3 linked regions of the Homo sapiens genome follow. The protein of the gene in region 3 interacts with the protein of the main gene of each other region in a biochemical or structural test. Each region holds a gene or a part of one and is shown on either strand. Other genes may lie near its edges.

Region 1 (7,630 bases), on a different chromosome or scaffold from region 3:
AATTCTGAATTTCCAGGCTCTTAGAGATTTATGTCACATCCTTTTAGTTGAATACAATTTTTTTTATACCTAAACTGTCCTTTTTAATTTTCACAAGGATTTCCCTGAGAGGTGATGCTAGGAATGTGAGCAAAGAAGGTAAATAATTTGTTCAATTTTTAAAAATAGTTAAATGATCTAGTTATGTAAACTTAGATGTCTAAAATAGCATATCCTAATATTTTCATACATAATTAAGTAGCTATTTTTCAAATAAGGTGCTTCCTTTCAGTTCCTAGTGCTAGTCTCTTAATCATGGTCTCCACTATACTTTTAAATATTTTCTCTCTAGTAAAATGTCTCTAGTCTCCAAATAATTGCCAGAAGCAGGTTTTTGGAGAGGCTAACACGTTACGATAGTCACATGGACAGAAGGCAGGCAGACATATCCAGGCTTGACTGTGGACTGTCCACTTAGTGTATGCATGACGGACCATGGATAAGACATTGAGACTCACTCTGATCTCCGTTTTCTGGTCTGTGAGGATCACCTTAATGCAACTATAATGAGGAGTCAATGAGAGGAAATTTGGAACACCCCTGGCTTAAACTAAGTGCTCACTAAATGGTACCCGTTAGACTAAAATAGTACATGGCACTCAATATATTGAACCTAGCATATGCCCCAGCAAGCAGAGCCTCTAATAAGACAGTAATTTCAAGTTTTTCTTCTTGATTATCAGAAGCAGATAATTTTCATTTTCTTGAAATGAAAATCAAAGGTCCCCTTGAGTAGAGATTAATGAAAGGAGGACTACAGTATTCCTGCTGGACTAGATGGTCCAGGAGAGCAGGGGACCTGTTTGCCTCATTTTCTGTTGTGTCCTGTATGCCTGGAACATAACAAATGCTTGGTGGTTACTTTTGAATGAAGGAAGTGCAGTTTTATGCACGCCTTCTGAGAAACAAGCGGCTGGACCTCAAATTTTCACCCTGCTGAGTAGTCACAATTCAATCTGGATTTTGTTTAAGCCTACCTAATGAAAGGTTACTGCTTGAACACATCACTTGGCTTCCAAAGCCACTAAAGCCCCAAGTTTTACCCTAATTTTTTGATTCAGAAATTATTTTTTAGAAATATAGTAATCCTGGACTGGGCGCAGTGGCTCACTCCTGTAATCCCAGCACTTTGGGAGGCCGAGGCAGGTGGATCACGAGGTCAGGAGATTGAGACCATCCTGGCTAACACAGTGAAACCCCATCTCTACTAAAAATACAAAAAATTACCCAGGTGTGGTGGCATGCACTTGTAGTCCCAGCTACTCAGAAGGCTGAGGCAGGAGAATGGCGTGAACCCAGGAGGCAGAGCTTGCAGTGAGCCGAGATTGTGCCACTGGCCACTGCACTCCAGCCTGGGCAACAGAGCAAGATTCCATCTCAAAAAAAAAAAAAAGAAAGAAAAAAGAAATATAGTAATCCTGGAAAATTCAGAGTTTGTCACCATATAGAGATATAAAGAAAATAAGATTGGAACAAACCATTCTGCTTTATAGGTGATTGATGAAGGGCATTTTCATTATTTTGACAAAGTAGGCTTCATCATTTTGGCAGAGATGGAAATCACGTTGGGCAATGGCTGCTTAACACACTCTGAACTCTGCTATCTTCTGTTATTAACCAGAAGTCTGTTACCCAGCGCTTCAACACATATTCATGTGCTCCTAAGTCAATCAGAATTCACAGTGATGATCTCAGACACCATAATATCCAGAGGTACTTTCTGAGTCATCAAGGAGAGATTAAATTATGCTCATTCAGGGTCTCCCATCGAATGCAGTTATTACTTTCTCATTCGTTGGAAATTGGTTAACTGGATATTTGATTTACCAGTATACCTCAGTTTTTCCATTAAAGCTGAGTACAGAGATTTACTGTAAAATAATATCACTGAAAATAACGACCTCAATCCTCCATTACAAAACTCATTTCTCCCTTCCATCCTGAAGTGGTCTTAAGCTTTCCAAACAAGGCTGCCAAGTGAAATACAAAATGTCCAGTTAAATTTGACGCAGACAAACAAGACATAATTTTTCAGAATAAGTATGTCCCATGCAATATTTGAGACATATGTGTACTAAAAAATTATTCATTATTTCTCTGAATTCTAATTTCACTGGGCATCTTGTTTCTTGTTTTGTTGTTTATTTGCTAAATCTGGCAACACTATTTCCAAAGGGTTTGACCTGCACCGGGCTGACCTGTACCAGCCTGCTATGAAGGGACAGAGTTAAACGCTAGCATCTCATTCAAACCTTGAATTAATTGTTAATGTAATTTTTCTGCAAATTATTGTTAAAAGTGAGTCACATAGTTTTCAGTCAAAGGTAAATCAAGTTGCCTCTTCATTTTTTTTTTTTTAATGAGGCAGCTATATGGAAGGAATAACAGTCTCACTTTGCACCATGGATATGTTGGCTAAATGGGGACAGGGCATCACTAAGTCTATGAATACAGAAACTGTGCCCCAGCCGAGTCTGCATTAGAGAAAGGGCATTAATCTGGTGACGGTTCTGCTCTCCTTACAGTATTCAAGTTAATTATGTTTGCCTCCAAATGGTAACATCTGGTCCCCATTACCAGCTAAACATTGCCTTTCTAAAAGCTTGTTTGGAATCAGGCAGGTATGAACACCGTGGCCAAAAAATGGCACTCTATTTTTAACACTACAGTTTCATAGTCCCTTAGTAAAATTGTTTTTGTAAATCTTTTTTTAATCCCGACTGAGTATATTCTTGGTTTCCAGATCCCAGCCTGGAGCAAATACTGTGGTTAAGTTACAGGAAAGGGCAATTGAGAAAATGACAGCTGCCTTTCATTGTATTAAGTTGATTCATTCAACAAATATTTGTTGAGCAAATACTATGTATAAAACAGGGCATGAAGAGTCATATAAAACAGAAAAATATGACTTAGTTCGTGTCCTCAAAGAAGTTAAAATCTGGGGAGGCAGAAAGCAGCATTCCAAAGAACTAAATGTGCTCATCAGCATTTGAGGGCTGGATATGGTGGCTCAAGCCTGTGACCCCAGCACTTTGGGAGGCCAAAATGGTAAGATCTCTTGACCCCAGTAGTTTGAGAGCAGCCTGGGCAACATAGCGAGACCAAAAAAAAAAAAATTGCCAATCATGGTAGCATCCACATGTAGTCCTAGCTACTCAGGAGACTGAGGTGGGAGGATTGCTTGAGGCCAAGAGTTCAAGGCTGCAGTGAGCCATGATCACACCACTCCACTCCAGCCTGGGTGACAGAGTGAGACCCTGTCTCTAAAAATAAAAATTAAAAAAAAGGCCGGGGTGTAGAGGGGCCAGGCGCCGTGGCTCACACCTGTAATCCCAGCACTTTGGGAGGCCGAGGCAGGCATCACGAGGTCAGGAGATCGAGACCATCCTGGCTAACACTGTGAAACCCCTCTCTACTAAAAATACAAAAAATAAGCCGGGCGTGGTGGCAGGCGCCTGGAGTCCTAGCTACTCGGGAGGCTGAGGCAGGAGAATGGCGTGAACCCGGGAGGTGGAGCTTGCAGTGAGCCAAGATCGCCCCACTGCACTCCAGCCTGGGAGACAGAGCGAGACTCCTTCTCAAAAAAAAAAAAAAAGAAAGAAAGAAAGAAGGGAAATGCAGATAAAATGGTGTGAAGAGGCCCAGAAATGGAAAACTGTGTCCAGTTGCAGAGAACAGAAAAACTGAGTAAACGATGTGGCATTTGAAAACAGGTCAGGATTTTAAGCAGTTCAGATAATGGAAAAGGGTAACATGACAGGGAATTCCTTGTGGAGGGAACAGAAAGAAAGCTCCCAAACTCCCAGAAGTAAGGAAGTTCTTCATGCCAATTGGCACTGGTTAAAGGAGTGAATGGGGAGAGGCCTTGCAAGGACATGACATGGAAGGCCTGCATGCCTGACTGAAAATGACGTGCGTAATTTCTAGACAAGAAGGCACTGAATGTCTGAGTAAAGAAACGACATGATCTGGACCATAGAACTCATGTGGAAAGTATCTGAGTAATGAATTCTTAAGGTTCAGCTGATAATGTGGACTTAGTTTAATTGCATTAGATGTTTGCCTCTCACTTAGGGGTAGTTATATTTTTAGGCTAAATTTTTATTATATAACGCAGAATTGAGTTGCTTCAAAGAAAAATAGGTTATCATTCTTGCACATGTTCTTGATTAGGATGTACAGTTTCTAAAGGAAAATACTTGAAGTGTTGGACATTTTGTCATTAAGCCAGCGTTGAATTCATCAACAACTGATACTCTCCTTGTGCTCAGAAGCTCCTTGGGCTGCTTTAGAAGACATAAAAAGGTCTATGATGCTGTTCATTGCCTTTGAAGATCTTATAATCTAGCTGTGGGTACATGACTAACAATCTTAAAGCCTTAGAGAGCAGTGGAATGCTGAGCTCTGTGCTACTTACATCATATTTCTGAGAAGGGAGAGCTCAGAATAAAAGCTAGAGTAGCTTGAAAAGTTCTCTTCATGAGTCTTAAGCTGGGTTTTGAGCAAAGGCAATGATGAGGATGACGTCTAGACTGTATGAGAAGAGAATTGCTTAACTGAGATGTATTGTCAGTAATAGAAAATCAAATTAGGCAAATGGGATGAAGTCAAAATGAGGGTCTTGAATGCCAGATCGAGTTTTGATATCTTCCTATCAATAATGGAAAACCATGGTACATTTTCAAAAGATATCTCTTTTCTATTGTCGGGGTAAAATATACATAACATAAAATTTACCGCTTTAACAATTTTCAACCACTTTTAACCATTTTAATTTTATCATTGTACATTTTTAAGTGTACAATTCTGTCGCATTAAGTACAGTCACATTGCTGTGCAAGCATCACCACTATTTCCAGAATTTTATAATTGTCTCAGACTGAAACTCTGCACCCATGAAACACTAACTCTCCCAATCTCCATTTCCCCCAAGCCCTGGCAACCACCATTTTGCTTTCTGTCTCTACGAATCTGACTGATCTAGTGATAGGCTACTCCTATCCATGGAATCAGACCATATTTGTCCTTTTTTTGTTGGGCTTCTTTCACTTAGCAGTGGAGATTTTTGAGGATGAGAATGACATGCTTAAAACAACATTTTCTGAAAATTTAAGTAGCAGTTGGTGTAGTGGAGATTCAAAGTGGGGTCTGGGAGGCCAACCAAGAGCTGATGTAGCACCCTGGCCAGAGCGCTCGGATCAGGATAAATCCAGAAGAAAGGAAGGTAGCAACAAGAGTTCTGTTGCTTTCTTGTACTTAATAAAAACAACAGGATTTGGCAGCAAAACGGAAATGACGAGATGACTAGGCAGGAAGTGGATGATTGGTGATGCCACCAATTAAAAGACAGGGTTCAGTGAAAAGATGCAGTATCCAGGGGAAAGGACTGTCTTAGTCTGCTTGTGGTACATTTGAGATGACAGTGAGACATTCATGTGGAAAGTCCCCAATGCAATTAGAAATAGGGGTGGGGAGAACAGTTGTGGGGGATCATGGTCACTATTCTCCCACACTCAATTCAAATGCCACCTCCCCTGGGAGGTCCTCTATTACCTCTGCAGGCTGAGTATGCATTCGTTCTCTTTACCTCTGCATCACTGTCTCTTTACCTTTGTTTTAGCAACCTTCCTGCTATCGGATTGACTTCTATGCATATCTCCAATCCATCATAAACTATGAACTTCTCTTAAGCAGGGCCAGTACTTGATCCAGGGATGAATTCTGGATACCAAAGAGACTGAAATATGAATGTTAAACTTAGAAGATGTCAAAGCGGGGGAAATGTATGTTCTTATTGAAGATTTGCCTTACTGGGATGTGAGTTTAGAGACGGGAATTCTGACAGAGCAGGAGGAAGGTTTGAGGGAGGAAAGATTTACTGTAAAATAATCCAGAGACTGAAAATTGTATATGATTGGGTACAAAATCATGTCTTTATTCCATATGTTGTATTTTATTTCTTAGCATGGAGTCGCCCAGGAAATCATTTTACATTATCTGTTTCATTTCACTTCCCAGATTATCCTTGCTCTGGAATGTTGGGTATGGTGTCTGGACTTATTTCTGACTCCCAGATCACATCATCCAACCAAGGGGACAGAAACTGGATGCCTGAAAACATCCGCCTGGTAACCAGTCGCTCTGGCTGGGCACTTCCACCCGCACCTCATTCCTACATCAATGAGTGGCTCCAAATAGACCTGGGGGAGGAGAAGATCGTGAGGGGCATCATCATTCAGGGTGGGAAGCACCGAGAGAACAAGGTGTTCATGAGGAAGTTCAAGATCGGGTACAGCAACAACGGCTCGGACTGGAAGATGATCATGGATGACAGCAAACGCAAGGCGAAGGTGAGGGCTGGGGACTGGGAGGAGGTCATCCCTTATGTCCTTGACTTCAATCAAGGGCCTCTGGCATTCTCCCGAGGAAGGGCTTCTTATTTCCTTCCAGCCATGACATTAGAGGAGGTGTGTGATGGGGTCAGTAAGACCCTTGATTCTAGGAAGACAGGAATATGGCATGAAAAGTGATGTCTGAGATAACATGCAAAAGAATTGCATTGCTGGTCCCATTCCCTGGCTGTAGGGATGGACAGACAGCTCAACATGCAGACAGGAGACGGGGAAGCCCAAGGCTGACAGCAGCCATCCAGCCAGCGCTCAGAACCCCTTGCAGATACCACTCAGTCGTTTGGGTCTGCCCTCCCCCCATCTCAAACCTACCCCTAGTTTAAGTGCTTTGTTTCTTTTATAAATTTTTATTGTGGGCCAGGCTCAGTGGCTCATGCCTGTAATCCCAGCACTTTGGGATGCCGAGTCGGGCGGATTGTCTGAGCTCAGGAGTTCGAGACCAGACTGGACAGCACGGTGAAACCCCATCTCTACTAAAATACAAAAAATTAACAGGGTGTGGCAGCGTGTGCCTGTAGTCCTAGCTATTCTGGAGGCTGAAGCAGGAGAATTGCTTAAACCCGGGAGGCAGAGGTTGCAGTGAGCTGAGATTGCACCACTGCTCTCTAGCCTGGGTGACAGAGTGAGATTCCGTCTCAAAAAAAAAAAATTAATTGTGATAAAATACATATAATATACAATTTCCCATCTTAACCTTTTTAGTGTGCAGTTCAACAGTGTTAAGTATGTGTATATTGTGCAACCAATCTCTAGAACTTTCTCATCTTGCAAAACTGAAACTCTACACCCATTAAGCAACAACTCCCAGTCCCCCTGCCCCCAGCCTCTGGTGACCACCTCCACTTTCTGTCTGTGTGAATTCAACCATTTTAGGGACCTCATACTGTATTTGTCTTTTTGTGATTGGCTTATGTCACTTAGGATAATGTTTTCAAGGGCCATCAGTGTTATAGCATTGTGTCAGAATTTCCATCCTTCGAAAGGCTGGATAATATTCATTGTGTGTTTATACCACACTTTGTTTATCCATTCAGCCACTGATGGACACTTGAATTGCTGTCACCTTTAGCTATTGTGAATAATGCTTAAGTATATTTCTTTATGCGTTGAAACCTTTTAAGATGCAGTAGGCTCTTGATAATCCAGTGAAAAGAAAAGGAAATCTCAACACAAAAACATTC
Region 2 (6,301 bases), on a different chromosome or scaffold from region 3:
GGTAGGTACTGGGGGGCAGGGAGGCATAGCCCCCATAGCCAGGCCACTCCACTCTGCCACCCACCCTCGACCCAGCTGACTGTCAGAGCTTGGCAGGCCCAAAATGATATTGATTCCAGAGCTTTTGGTGTATATATGGGGAAACTGAGGCTCAGAGTGGGGCAGTGGCTTGCCCAGGGTTGCTGGCACAGGGATTTGGTGGCAGCGTCTGCCCTTCTGACTCCCAGTACAGTGCTCCTTGCCTACCCTATGCTGCAGACTCCGAACACTGTGGCTCTTCCCACGGCGGCTCTGCCTGAGGTTGCTGGGTGAGCCAGAGGCTGCTACATCTCCCCAGCCTGTGCCCGCCCAAGGTGCATGAACAGTCAAGTCAGAGTCCAGCAGCTCTGCGTGGCTGCTGGTTCTCAGAGGCTGCTCATGGGCATCAGGGATGTGGCCCCTTGAATTCCTCTGCTCCAGCTGCCTTTAGCCATGGCACAGCCCCTCACCCACTGCTGCCAGGGCCTCCGAGTTTCCGCAGGGTACAGCCCATGACAGTATTTGCAACAACAACAACAACGGTGACAATTTTAAGGACTGACCACGTGCCAGGCAGTGTTCTTGGTACTTGCATGTATTTACTCATTTACTCCCCCGGCCAACCTTATGGAGTATTATTATTCCCGGATCCAGTCACTCGTCCAAAGATACACATCTATTAAAGTGGTAACACTGGGATTTGAACCCAGGCAGGCTGCTCCGCCCATTCATTCAGAACGAATGATTGAGCACATTCGTTCTGGTGCTGTTCTGGGCATTGGGTACCAGGAGAGATGGTGGTGCCTGGGGCCAGGGTGCTAGCAGTGGGGGTGACGAGAAGGGGGCTGATTCTGAATCGGTCTAGAAGGCGGAGTTTGCTGATGATCAGAGTTTCTTGTTGGATTGGATGTGGGTGGGAGGGAGGAGTTTTTTTGTTTGTTTGTTTGTTTTTTGAAACGGAGTCTTGCTCTGTCACCCAGGCTGGAGTGCAGTGGCGCCATCTCGGCTCACTACAAGCTCTGCCTCCCAGGTTGATACCATTCTCCTGCCTCAGCCTCCTGAGTAGCTGGGACTACAGGCGCCCGCCACCACGCCCGGCTAATTTTTTGTATTTTTAGTAGAGACGGGGTTTCACCATGTTAGCCAGGATGGTCTTGATCTCCTGACCTCGTGATCCGCCCGCCTCGGCCTCCCAAAGTGCTGGGATTACAGGCGTGAGCCACCACGCCCAGCCTGGGAGGAGTTTTTACCAGAGCAGCTGGAAGGTGGAGTTGCCCTTGGCCAAGATGACAAGGAGCAAGCTGGGTTCGGGAGTGGGACATCCTAGTGGAGGTGTCCGGCAGGCAGTGCGATGCATGCGTCTGCAGTTCCTCCGAGCAGGCAGTCCAGCTGGGCAGCCTAAATGCAGCTGCACATTTAGAAGCTACGGGTGCAGTAAAGCCTGGGGGAGGCTGCCCAGGAAGGGAGAGCAGCTAGAGGAGAGGAAAGACCACAGGCTGAACCCCAGGGAGAGGAGGAGGAGGGCAAGGCCCCATAAGACCTAGGAGAGCCAGGAGAGTGGGGTCCTGGGGTGAAGTGCAGGCTCAGTCAGGTAGGAGGGAGTGATGCCCAGGGTCGGGGTTATCGAGGGATCAGTAGGAGCAGGGCTAAGGATTCTCTGATGGTGGCCGGGTGCGGTAGCTCACGCCTTGTAATCCCAGCACTTTGGGAGGCTGAGGAGGGTGGATTATTTGAGGAGTTTGAGACCAGCCTGACCAACATGGTGAAACCCCGTTGCTACTAAAAATACAAAAATTAGCCGGGCGTGGTGGCACATGCCTATAACCCAGCTACTTGGGAGGCTGAGGCAGGAGAATTGCTTGAACCCGGGAGGCGGAGGTTGCAGTGAGCCAAGATCGCACCACTGCACTCCAGTCTGGGCGACAGAGCGGGACTGTCTCAAAAAAGAGAGGATTCACTGCTGGGTTCAGTGGGAGCCACCAAGGAAACCTTTCTCATGGGCAGTTTCGGTGGATGCGGGGGTGTGGGGAATCTGCCAGGGACCCCACAAAGGCCCCATTTGCTTCCAGGAATGAGGTAGTTTGATGCCAATTTTTGTTTGTTTGTTTGTTTGTTTGTTTTGAGACAGAGTCTCACTCTGTCTCCCAGGCTGGAGTGCAGTGGTACAATCTGGGCTCACTGCAACCTCCACCTCCTGGGTTCAAGCGATTCTCCTGCCTCAGCCTCCCGAGTAGCTAGGATTGCAGGCTTGAGCCACCAAGCCCGGCTGATGCCAATTTTTATCAGGCAAGTTTCATGCCCAAACCAGCCGACTTCAGCCGACTTAGTGCTCCTGGAGATAGGAAGCCCCCTCCCGGGATCCCCGGCTCCCCAGCTGTAGTCCAGGCTGAAAGAACTCGGCCCTGGTGGCCTCACATTCTGCAGAGCAGCCCTCCCTCCACCAGGCAAGCAGTTGAGGCAGACAGCTGCTGCAACCATTTTGTGAGCAGATTTATTTATTTATTATTTTTTTGAGACGGAGTCTCACTCTGTAGCCCAGGCTGGAGTGCAGTGGCTCCATCTCAGCTCACTGCAACCTCCGCCTCCCAGGTTCAAGCGATTCTCCTGCCTCAGCCTCCAGAGTAGCTGGGACTACAGGTGCACGCCACCACGCCCAGCTAATTTTTGTATTTTTAGTAGAGACGGGGTTTCCCCTTGTTGGCCAGGCTGGTCTCGAACTCCTGACCTCAGGTGATCTGCCTGCCCTCAGCCTCCCAAAGTGCTGGGATTACAGGCGTGAGCCACCGAGCCCGGCCTGGATTGATTGATTTATTTTTATCTTTTTAATTGATTTATTTATTTATTTTGAGATGGAGTTTCACTCTGTCGCCCAGGCTGGAATGCAGTGGCGCGATCTCAGCTCCCTGCAACCTCCGCCTCCCAGGTTCATGCCATTCTCCTGCCTCAGCCTCCCGAGCAGCTGGGATTACAGGCACCCGCCATCATGCCCACCTAAATTTTGTATTTTTACTAGAGACAGGGTTTCACTGTTGGCCAGGCTGGTCTCAAACTCCTGACCTCAGGTGTTCCACCTGCCTCAGGCTCCCAAAGTGCTGGGATTACAGGCGTGAGCCACCACACCTGGCCCAGATTTGTTTTTAAAGGATCCCTTACTTCCTTATATGTTTTGCTCAGTTTGGTGGGTGTCCATGAGGGCCCTTACCCTGCAGAGAGGAAAGATTCTAGAACGGCAGGAGCAGGGTTCTGAGCCCCACCCCCAGGCTCAAATCCTGCCATTTCCAGCCAAGGCCAAGTTACATCGCCTTTCTGTGCCTCAGTTACCGCACCTGTACAGTGGGATTGGTTGTGAACTTGCTGCCACGGCCTCGGGGAATTAATGGGTCCATACGTGTAAATTCTTAGATGAGGTTCTGGTACCAAATAGTTTCTCCCTAGGTGCTGGCTTTGCTGATTATCCATATCAGAGCTCAGGCTGGGGAGCAAGAGAGTGGTCCACTGAGAGGGCCAGAACTCTCCAGGGCTCACACATGCCCCCCACATGCCCCCTCGCCCCCCTGCAGTGGTACCCAGAAGTGAATCATTTCTGCAAGAAGGTACCCATCATCGTCGTGGGCTGCAAGACTGACCTGCGCAAGGACAAATCACTGGTGAACAAGCTCCGAAGAAACGGATTGGAGCCTGTGACCTACCACAGGGTAGGAAACCCAGCCCGAGGTGGGAGTTGGGGAGGACTGAGTGAGGGGACCTCTGGATGCCTCTCAGTGGCACCAGGTGTCCAGAACGCTCAGGGTGTAGGTCAGAGCTGCGGTCGTCTTAGAGGCTGTCAGAGGTCAGAAACTTCCAGCACTTAGAAATGGTCCCTAGAATATTCTGGGAGCCTCCACAGGCAAAAGGGAGAACAAGGAAGTAGGCATATCAGAGTCAGTTCCACCACCAACCTGAGACCCAGAGAGGGGGCCCAGGCAGGCACCCACATATTCAGACCGTGGGTCCCTCTCTGCTACACGTCTGGGTTCATGGGAAGTTCATTTCTTGGTGCCTTGAGAGGCAAAGAGGCCCAGAACGGAGGTTAAAAACAACGAAGGCTGGCAGGGCGCAGGGGCTCACGCCTGTAATCCCAGCACTTGGGAGGCCGAGGTGGGTGGATCACTTGAAGTCAGGAGTTCGAGACCAGCCAGGGCAAAATAGCGAGACCCTGTCTCTACCAAAAATACAAAAAATTAGCCAAGTGGTGTGGTGGCGGGTGCCTGTAGTCCTAGCTACTCTGGAGGCAGAGGCAGGAGAATCACTTGAACCCGGTTGGAGGAGCTGCAGTGAGCTGAGATCGCACCACTGCACTCCAGCCTGGACGACAGAGCAAGACTCCGTCTCAAAAAAATAATAATAATAAAAATAAAGAAAAGAAAAACAAACATGATGAAGTGCATGAGGGCGCTTGGGCAAGCAGGGATACGGGAGCCATGGGTGCTCCGCAGACCCCACCTTCCACTCTTGTCCGGGAAAAGGAAGCGAGAACGTGAGGCCTGCCCAGTGCCCCCTTCACCGCAGCCCCATCCACCTCTCCCTCTAGGGCCAGGAGATGGCGAGGTCCGTGGGCGCGGTGGCCTACCTCGAGTGCTCGGCTCGGCTCCATGACAACGTCCACGCCGTCTTCCAGGAGGCCGCCGAGGTGGCCCTCAGCAGCCGCGGTCGCAACTTCTGGCGGCGGATTACCCAGGGCTTTTGCGTGGTGACCTGAGCGGCTCGGGGCGTCCCAGCGACGCGGGAAGGGGCAGGGCGCTGACCTGCTGCTGAGCTGGCTGGGCTGGACCCGGTCCCTAGGCTGTGACCGCCGAACTCCACTGCAACAGACGGGCGCCACCAAAGCCAGGCCCTGAGGCCTGGGAGTCCTGGACTGAGAAAGGGGGTTCCTGGGCCCACCTGCTCTGTGTAGGGCTCGTCCTGCGGTGCCCGAGAATCACTCGCTAACCCCTATGCCCGGTCCCGGACCGACATCCTGGAGCCGCCTGTGCAGCCTGATGCCCCCTCGTGGCTGCTCCCAGGGCTGCACCTGCCAGGACCTAATGTTCTTAGGTCCCTCTGGCCAGAACCCACACCCGGCCCCTTCCCACCTGTCATACTGGTAACTGTAACAAGAAAAACGACATCACTTATCATTGTGTCGTGCCTCTTTTTTCTGTTTTCTTTTTTTTGAGACGGAGTCTCGTTCTATCGCCCAGGCTGGAGTGCAGTGGCGCATTTCAGCTCACTGCAACCTGTGCCTCCTGGGTTCAAGCGATTCTCCTGTCTCAGCCTCCTGAGTAGCTGGGATTACAGGCGCGCGCCACCACACCCGGATAATTTTTGTATTTTCTTTAGCAGAGACGGGGTTTCACCATGTTGGTGAGGCTGGTCTCGAACTCCTGACCTCATGATCCACCCGCCTCGGCCTCCCAAAGTGCTGGGATTACAGCCATGAGCCACCACGCCCTGCCTATGCCTCTTGTTTCAAGGTGTCTTTACACACACGTTCCAAGGTAGGTAAAAGCCCACCCCATCTAGGCACTGGGATGGGACTGCTTGGATCCAAACCAGCTTTATTGCTTCCACGACCTTGGGCAAGTTCTTCTGGGCCTCAGCTTCCTCACCTGTGAAATGGATCACAGACTAAGCCATGGAACTTTCGGATGAGTAAGAGGGTCATGAGGACCAACACACGCAAAGAGCTTAGTAGGTGCCTAGCACGCAGTAAGTGCTCACAAAAGGTTCGGCCAGGGCCGAGCACAGTGACTCATGCCTGTAATCCCAGCACTTTGGGAGGCCGACGTGGGTGGATCACGAGGTCAGGAGTTTGAGACCAGCCTGACCAACATGGTGAAACCCCCATCTCTACTAAAAATACAAAAATTAGCCAGGCGTGGTGGCCCACACCTGTAATCCCAGCTACTCCAGAGGCTGAGGCAGGAGAATAGGTTGCAGTGAGCCGAGATCACACCACTGCACTCCAGCCCAGGCAACACAACGAGACTCCTTCTCAAAAAAAAAAAAGGTGTAGCCAGGTGCTGTGGCACACCTGTCCCAGCCACGATTGTACCAGTGCACTCCAGCTTGGGCTACAAAGCAGAAAAAAAAAAAAAAAAAGAAAAAAAAGTGGCCGGGTGTGTTGGCTTACGCCTGTAATTCCAACACTTTGGGAGGCTGAGGCGGATGGATCACCTGAGGTCAGGAGTTCGAGACCAGCCTAGTGGTCACATGGTGAAACCCGGTCTCTACTAAAAATATAAAAATTAGTTGGATGTGGTGG
Region 3 (7,630 bases):
ACCAGGAGTGCATGTCTACCATCTCCCTCCGCCTTGACAATGATAACCAATGCACGACCAGTCTCTGCATCTCATGGATGAGGACACAAGGTTGGAGACAGGAAGAGGTTTGATTAGGGCCACACTGCAGGTAGGAAAAAGGAGTGGAGTAGAGGCATAGCTGGCTCCAGGGTCCCTACTCTCTCTCTCTTGTTCATACTAAGGTTTATCAGGGCAATATGTTCCCTATTAGGCAGAGCCCAGAGGCCACCAGTGATACCAGGCTCCCAGCCAAGGCCAACAGGTATCAGGCAGACAGGTAATGGCCCAGGCAGAACATACACAGTCACAGCTGAGAGAGACAGTGTGACAGACACAGCAAATGGAGGCACTGAAAGAGAGATACAACCTGGGGAGGCTGTGTAGCCCCGTGTGGCAGCAAGCCCAGGAACAGGATGGCAGCACTCAGCCACAGGCAGCCCAGGGCCCAAGGCGGGAAGGTCTGCTCAGTATCAGCTCAAAAGGGACTTCCCACCAACAGAGTCACCACAAGGGACATGGGCTCCCCAACATCCAAGGCACACGGTTGGGGGGTGCCCTCAGCTGGAGAGTGTGACTGAGCTAACCTGCCGAGCCCCTGGCCGTGGCTCGCCAAGGACTGGCTCCTAGCCTGCCTGCCGCTGGGGGCCTTTTAGGGGTGTGGGAGCCAGCCCTCTTTTCCCTCGCCAGGCTCGCTGCCAAGGTCTACGGGGCAAAGCCCTACTCTCTGAGACCCTGGTGCTATGCCAGCCACATGCTCCCCTCCCAAACCGCCATAGCAGACTTCATCAGGCACCCGCACCTCCCAGCACACGGCCCCTGCCCAGCGAGGCTTCGCATCCAGAGCCACCCAGGAGACCAGGCCAGTGGAGCCGCAGGCGGGACCCCCAACAGAGGCAGGGCCCAAGGGGCAGCCACCGGGGAGGTGCCAGAAGCCCAGGCTGACAAGTGGTTTGCTGGGATGAGGCCTGGCATCCCACGGAGGCCCTGGGGCCAGAGCCTCCTCCTGCCCTCTGGAGGTACTTTATGGAGCAGAGCCGTGCTGGCCATTCCCCTGCCCCAACCCCAGGGCTCAGGGCTCCACTGTGCTTGCCTGGTCTTGGTTCTGCCTCCCAGCACCTGCTCCCCACTTGGCTGAGCCCAGAGCCCTGCAGGCCTGGACCCTCCCCCAGGCCACACAGGCTGCCCCATACCATCCATCAGCACCCAAGGAGCCTCAAAGGCAGAAGATAGCAGCTGCCTCTGAGTTCCTGTGACCCCCCGGAGCCAGTGGTCCTACCTCCATCTCCTTGAGCACAGGGTGGTCCTCGATCCCAGGAAAGAGCACCCGCATGGCATATGTCCGGTAGTCAAGGAAGGGGATGCCGGCACCGTCCAGGTCATTGGTCAGCTCGTGGATGTCTGTCTGCAGCTCTGCAAAGGCTGTGGCCAGATGCGGCGTCAGGGGCAGCATGCCCTGGTGGCCCCGCTCCATGCCCCAACCCTCCCACTCTTGGGGCCTACATCAAATCCTGGCTCTGACACTTACTGGTTTCGTGATCTTAAGGAAACTACTGTGCCTCTTCGTCCCCCAGCTACTACAGCCCTAGCACAGGGATAGTAACTCTCCTCTGCAAGGTTCCCACAGGATCAAGCAAGACAAGGGCAGAGAAAGCATCAGCACCAGGGGCAGGCTGGGCAGGGCCTCCTGCATCTCAGACACTGGCAGTTAAGCGTAGAGCAGCTTTGGAGTTCGGGCTCCTTCCACCCGCTGTGAGGTGGTGGAGTGCGGCCAGGGGTGAGGTCCCAGGGCTGCAGGCTGTCCCCAAGCCCCCACACCATTGCATGCACATCTCGGGCCTGGTGCACCCTCAACATGGCCCACCCTGCTCAGGGCCAGCTCTGCCTCTGTCAGGAACAAAGGCAGGCAGGCCCTGACAGAACATTCCAGAGCTGTGAGGTGTCAGTCCTGTGGCAGCCCGAGGATCAGGCTATCTGATCAGAAGCCAAAGGAGTGCCAGGCAGGCTCTGGGGGACATCTGACAGGTTTAATTAAGAGCTGGAGTCTTCGTCTCCTGGGCATCGCTGCCAGGCGTCTAGTTATCTGCACCTGGCTGGCCTGGAGCAGCCACCAGCCACTGCATCCACACACGCCAGCCTCGCCAGACAGCCAGCCTCAGCAGGCGGGAGCACAAGGGAGGTCCAGGCCACCTGCCTCCCACCTGGCCCCAACACACACCTGCCTCCAGTCCCACCAGGGCTGCCCAAGAGGTAGGGTGACCCTCAGCCCACCACAGGGCCACTTAGGTTTGTCTGGGACTGAGAGGGCTCCCAGGATGCAGAACTTTGCATTTTAAGACTGGCTGAGTCCTGTGCAAACAAAACACCCCATCCCAGTTGAGTCCCAGTGGAATTCATGACAACCCCATGCTGGACCACATGGCTAAGGTCCTACACTGCAGCAGGAACACTCCTAGTATCTGCCCCCTAGAGCCCTGAACATGTGTGAGTTACTATCTGCAAACGCTCAAAGTCTCGCCCGGCATGGAACAGATTTCTGCCACTCACACCTGCCCTGATCAGGAGCATGGTGTGGCATGACTCCCCCTATAGACATCTCAAGGACAAAGGTCAGCTCAGGCCAAGATCTCTATGTGCCCAGGGACTGCCAAAGCGCAAGGGCTCCCCATTGCTGCATGGTGGAAGCACCCCTCTCTGCTGCTCCGCTGGCACCAGCCAACCCACCACGACTCCCAGCACCCAGGGAAAGTAGGCACTGTCATTGTGCCCACTCTAGAGACGACAAGACTGAGCCACAGAAGGGTAAGTAGCCACCTTCAGCCTTATAGCCCAGCTGGGATACAAATGCAAACAGTCTGGCTTTGGGTTCTGTGTCGCAAGCAGCACCCCAAGGAGGTGGTACCTGCTGCAGGGCCAGGCCCTGGTCAGGCACCCGCCCACTGCCCTGGGACCAGCTCTGGCACAGCAAGGCTATCAGGAACATTGTAAACTGAGCTGAAGCAGGGTGGGGGCGGCGGTGGGAAGTAGGTGTGGGGACAGGCCAGGGCCTGGCTCGGAGGTGGCAGTTGCCCCAGTGAGCCCTGGCCCCAACAGACCTTCCTTGCATTCGAGGGCCACGCGGGACTCCAGGTTGTCCATCTGGAGCTGCAGCCGCTTGAGTGTGCGGTCAGCATCTCGTGACTTGCGCTTGTAGGCGATGAGCACAGCCACGATGACCAGCAGCAGGAGACCCCCGCCTCCGCCAATGCCCACAATGGCAGGCAGCGTCAGCAGGCTGTCCGAGTACACCTGCAGTGTCCCTGGCGAGAACTCGAAGCCACCTGCCCGCACCTGCCAGTGGGTGGAGGCCACTCAGGAGCTTCCCATGCTTTCCACAAAGCTTGGGAGCCCCTCCCGATGGGCAAGACCCACCCCCAACACCTGCCTGTGGGAAAGGTCCCACCGACAGGGGCACAGAGTGGTCACCAGGGTGGAGACACTGGGACCCAGGGCAGGCGCCTGGCCAGCCAGGGCACCACTGGCATGGCAAGGGCTCAGGGTGGGTAGGCAGTCTCGGGGGGCTCAAGGAGGTGGCAGGCTGAAGGCTACGGCAGGGCCTGCACTGGAGCCGGGCGCCCTCTGAGCTAGGGGTGAGTCTCGGGCAAGGTCAGAGCTGGGGCTGTGCTAGTGGGGCAGGGTCCACAGGTGGGGCATGGCTCTCCCAGCTCTGCACCCCCGGTGGACAGACGCACCGTGACCTTGTGCTGCCCAGTGAGGTTGGGCGCCTCGCACAGCAGTTGCGTCTCCGACACGGTGAGGGTACAGGGTGTGGAGCCGATGAGCACCGTGTAGTTGAGTCGGGAGTTGCCGGGTGCAGGTGGCAAGAGGTTCCGGCCCTGTAGGAGATGGGGGTGAGCCAGAGCCCAGGACGAGGGGCCTCTTCCCTGGCTTGGCCCAGCCTACGGGCAATGGTGACCCACCTTGAGGATGAGTGGGGAGCTGGGCTTCAGCTCCAGCAGGCCAGTGGGGCTGAGTGGCTCCAGTACGGGGTCAGGGTAGTAGAGGAAGGAGGTGGAGTTGAGCACAAGCAGGGAGCGCACGTTGTCCATGACGAAGCCCAGCTCATCCGGCCGCTCCCCCAGCTCTGGTGGGCTGCGCACAGGGTTGGCCACAGACGGGGCGCGGCATACCATGGTGGTGTCATTGTACACCAGGCAGCCCTGGAGACACAGGGTGGGGATGCTGGGCGGGACCTCCGCGAGTGGCCCGGCAGCTCCCAGTGACAGAGCCCCTGGCCTGGGGGCTGCCTGCTCCCTGCACAGATGATGCCAGGCACTAGCAGGGCTGGTCCTGGGCCACCCACCCGACGTGGACCAGGGACATGTGGCCTGAAGGAGAGGTGTGTGCAGCCAGCAACCCAGAGCCAGACCTTCTACCCGCCAGGCAGGACAGGTGCCTCCCCAGGGGTCTCCAGGCACAGCCAAGGTTGGCATAAGCTGGGAAGGGGCAGGGGTAGGGGCAGGGGCAGGGACACGGGTATTCCTAGCAGGAGCCCCATCCCAGGTGAAGGCCTGGACCGAGGTGGGCAGCTGAGGGCAGGGACTCACGTTCTCCCTCTCAATGCCTCCATACTTGGCCCGGATTCGGGGTTCACGGACAGTGGCCAGGTTGGTGCCTGTGACCGTCAGGAGGGTCCCACCGCTGGAACAGGACAGGGGTGGGGGGGTCACCAAATGATGCTGGGGCCCAGTGAGCTGGAAACGTGGGCCACAGCTCAGCCAGGCAAAGCCTGCCTTCCCCAAAGACAGGAAACAGGTAAAAGCTCTTGGCAAGGGGTGCTTCCCGGCAGGATAGTACCCGGCATGCAGGAGGGCCACCGCCAAGTGCCCAGTGGAAGAGCTCCTGGCTCAGCGCTGCTCTCAATAGCTGGGGATAGGGAATGGGTGTTGCTGGGCCCCACCTGTTGATGCTCCACTCGGGGTCGATCCTCAGGATGGTGGGGTCCTCGGTGTAGTTGTACTTCACCTCAGGGTTGGTGAGCTGGGCGCGGTTGATGTTGATGATGATGGGAGCGCTGCCAGGGCTCTGCCCGGGGGGTGTCAGGCACCGGATCTCACGGGAGTTCCTCCTGGAGGTGCCCGAGTGGGACAGTGAGGAGCACACGGGTGGAACCCAGGCAGGTGGAATGCAGATGCATTGAGGGACGGTGGGAACAGCGCCATCTGTCACAGGTACTGCCTTGGGTGGCTGCATACTATCACCGCTACTTTCCCTCCCAGGGCTGTGCATGTCTGTCCTACCCTCGCCCTGGCTCCCAGCCCCTTCAGGCCCCCACTGTTGCCCAGCCTGGCATTTGGGACCCGGCCTGCCGCCTCTCCAGGTCTGCTTTCATCACAGCCTCCCTGTCGCCCACACCCACTCCTGGTGACCCTGGCCAGGGCTCCACACCCACCAGGCCTCTGCCTCCCCAGAGGCAGTAGGCAGCAGGCCCGTCCCACGCACGCCAGGCTGGGAGGTAGGCTCATGCTGCCCTCCCTCTGTCCCTGGGGAGGGCTGGCGAGACTAAGCCCTGGCGCGACCTTCCCTGCCTGTCTCAGGGCCAGCCTCACTCAGCCGGGGCTCCGAGTGCTGGGAGCCCAGCACCCACTCCTACTACCCTGGGCCAGGCAGACACCTTCCCTCTCGGCACCTGTCCCAGTGGGAATACCTCGCCCTATCCCCGCATCCCAGGGGGCTGTGAGGAGACTAGATGAGCTGGCCTGGGTGGGGGTCACGGGGACACCCCACTGGGCAGGCAGCCAGGCATAGCCCACACCTGGGTCCGGACCCTCAGTTCTTCCACCACTGCCAGGAGCCCCACAGCCACCAGGCCCCCTCAGCTGCAGACACCAATGATTAGTCTGATAACGGGTAATTACCATAGGAAAATATTTAAAGGGACATTCCATTATCATCCCTAATCTAAAATTATCCACTTCAAGCCTCAGGGCTTTTGTTAAGATTTCTGTTTTCTCTCTTAAAAATTTTTAAAAAATACTTCTTATTTTGTACCCAAGGGATTCCCCCCTTCCCCACAGGGAAGAACCAGGGCAGAGGCAGCCAAGTTGCCCCGCCCCACAAAGGCAGGCCCCACGCCCATCACCGCCCAGTCCTACCACTCTGGAGGTAGCCTGTTTCCATGGTAACCTCCGCCTCTGGGTTTCACAGTGATCACCCCAGCCAGGCTCTCCATAGCCCCGTTGCCCAGGCAACAAGAAGGGGCATGCAACCATCTGAAACAGGAGGAGGGGCAGCCAGGCCCCCACCCCCACCTGCACCCCGTACCAGGAGAAGGAGCAGGGCCGGCCACCGACCGACACAGCCACATCACTGCCTGCGTTCAGGTGGCTTCCCTCGATGCCAATCCAGGTGCCCCCTGACAGAGGCCCACGGGAGGGGCTCACACGGTAGAAGGTTGGTGTCTGCAGGAAGAGGGAACTTGCTGAAACTCTCAGGAAAGTCCCCCTCGGGCCACATGGGGACAGGCCCCACTTGGCCTGCTTACCCCCACAGACAGTTCCCCAGACTAGGAGCCCGCATGCCCGGGAGCTGCACTTCAGAGCCAGTACTTCCAGGTTTCTCAGGCACAGCCCAAGGTGAGCCAGGGAGCCCTGGAGCTGGCCTAGGCACAGGAGGGGAGGGGCAGCACCCAGGCCGTGGAAAAGCAGTGGCAGAGCATGGCCAGACAAGGGGCCCTGAAGAGGCACAGAAGCCCTGAGCGGCACCCTCTCAGAGCAGCAGAGAATAGGGAGAGAGGGAGGGCAGCAGACTCACCACGAAGGTGAAGCGCTTGGGTGACAGGGCGCGGTAGTGTGGTGAGCAGTCCCGCACACACACCTCCACCAGGGCGTCATGGGCACGCACGGAGCTGGCGTCCCCGATCTCACAGACGATCCTGTGGGCAGGCGGGCCTCAGGGGCTGCAGGAGCCCCGCCCCGTCCCGTCCCGCCCCGCACACACCCAGGGCTGCACTCACTGCTCCGCACTGATGTACTCGCTCTCCACAGGGCTGCACAGCACCTTGCCCACGCGCACGCCCAGACGCACGTCTTCGAATCGCAGGCCCAGGTTCTCGCCTGTGATAGTGAGCCGCGTGCCGCCCTGCCTCGGGCCCGTCTCGGGGGACAGCTGAGGGAGGCAGAGGCTGGGGTACAGGCATCCCACAGGGCGTAGGGTGTGCGGTGGTGCAGGGCGGGGCATGGGGTGTGGGGGCAGGGCTGGGGGCCCTACCTTGAGGATCTTGGGGTCGGTGCAGCGACTGCTGCCGTGACGCGCGTGCATCCACGATGCAGGTGTGTCGGCAGCGCAGTGGTGTCGCAGGGAGCAGCGGCGCTCGGCCACGCACCATCCGCACTCGAAGCGCGGGTCGGCCTTGAGGCAGAGGCCGCAGCTCTCGCGCAGGGCCGGGCACTTGTAGAGGTGCGCTGTGGGGAGGGGTGCGGTCAGCTCGGGCCCGCCCACTGCCCACCCCGCCGGGGCGCCCACTCACCCTGGATGTTCTGTGGGTTGTCAATGACAAAGTTGCCGTTCCACACGACTGACAGGTTCACTGGCAGGTCGCTGACATCGTTCCCCTCGTAGGAGTACTGTTAGG

Evidence for each region.
Region 1: the proteins of PLXNA1 (region 3) and NRP1 interact in a test that uses a peptide from one of them, tested with the Homo sapiens proteins (one study listed by BioGRID).
Region 2: the proteins of PLXNA1 (region 3) and RHOD form a complex in vitro, tested with the Homo sapiens proteins (one study listed by BioGRID).

Annotation. Positions count from the first base shown.
Region 1 is NC_000010.11:33,212,145-33,219,774, reverse strand, and holds part of NRP1 (neuropilin-1 isoform a precursor), read left to right. Parts: intron 1-5,953; exon of another isoform or gene 5,954-6,057; coding exon 6,058-6,389; exon of another isoform or gene 6,390-6,537; intron 6,538-7,630. UniProt on the Homo sapiens protein: Cell-surface receptor involved in the development of the cardiovascular system, in angiogenesis, in the formation of certain neuronal circuits and in organogenesis outside the nervous system. Mediates the chemorepulsant activity of semaphorins.
Region 2 is NC_000011.10:67,066,847-67,073,147, forward strand, and holds the end of RHOD (rho-related GTP-binding protein RhoD), read left to right. Parts: coding exon 1-1; intron 2-3,578; coding exon 3,579-3,713; intron 3,714-4,588; coding exon 4,589-4,756; 3' UTR 4,757-5,171; downstream 5,172-6,301. UniProt on the Homo sapiens protein: Involved in endosome dynamics. May coordinate membrane transport with the function of the cytoskeleton. Involved in the internalization and trafficking of activated tyrosine kinase receptors such as PDGFRB.
Region 3 is NC_000003.12:127,014,012-127,021,641, reverse strand, and holds part of PLXNA1 (plexin-A1 precursor), read right to left. Parts: intron 7,623-7,630; coding exon 7,526-7,622; intron 7,461-7,525; coding exon 7,267-7,460; intron 7,165-7,266; coding exon 7,013-7,164; intron 6,932-7,012; coding exon 6,811-6,931; intron 6,459-6,810; coding exon 6,322-6,458; intron 5,126-6,321; coding exon 4,958-5,125; intron 4,699-4,957; coding exon 4,605-4,698; intron 4,218-4,604; coding exon 3,978-4,217; intron 3,894-3,977; coding exon 3,750-3,893; intron 3,349-3,749; coding exon 3,114-3,348; intron 1,441-3,113; coding exon 1,298-1,440; intron 1-1,297. UniProt on the Homo sapiens protein: Coreceptor for SEMA3A, SEMA3C, SEMA3F and SEMA6D. Necessary for signaling by class 3 semaphorins and subsequent remodeling of the cytoskeleton. Plays a role in axon guidance, invasive growth and cell migration.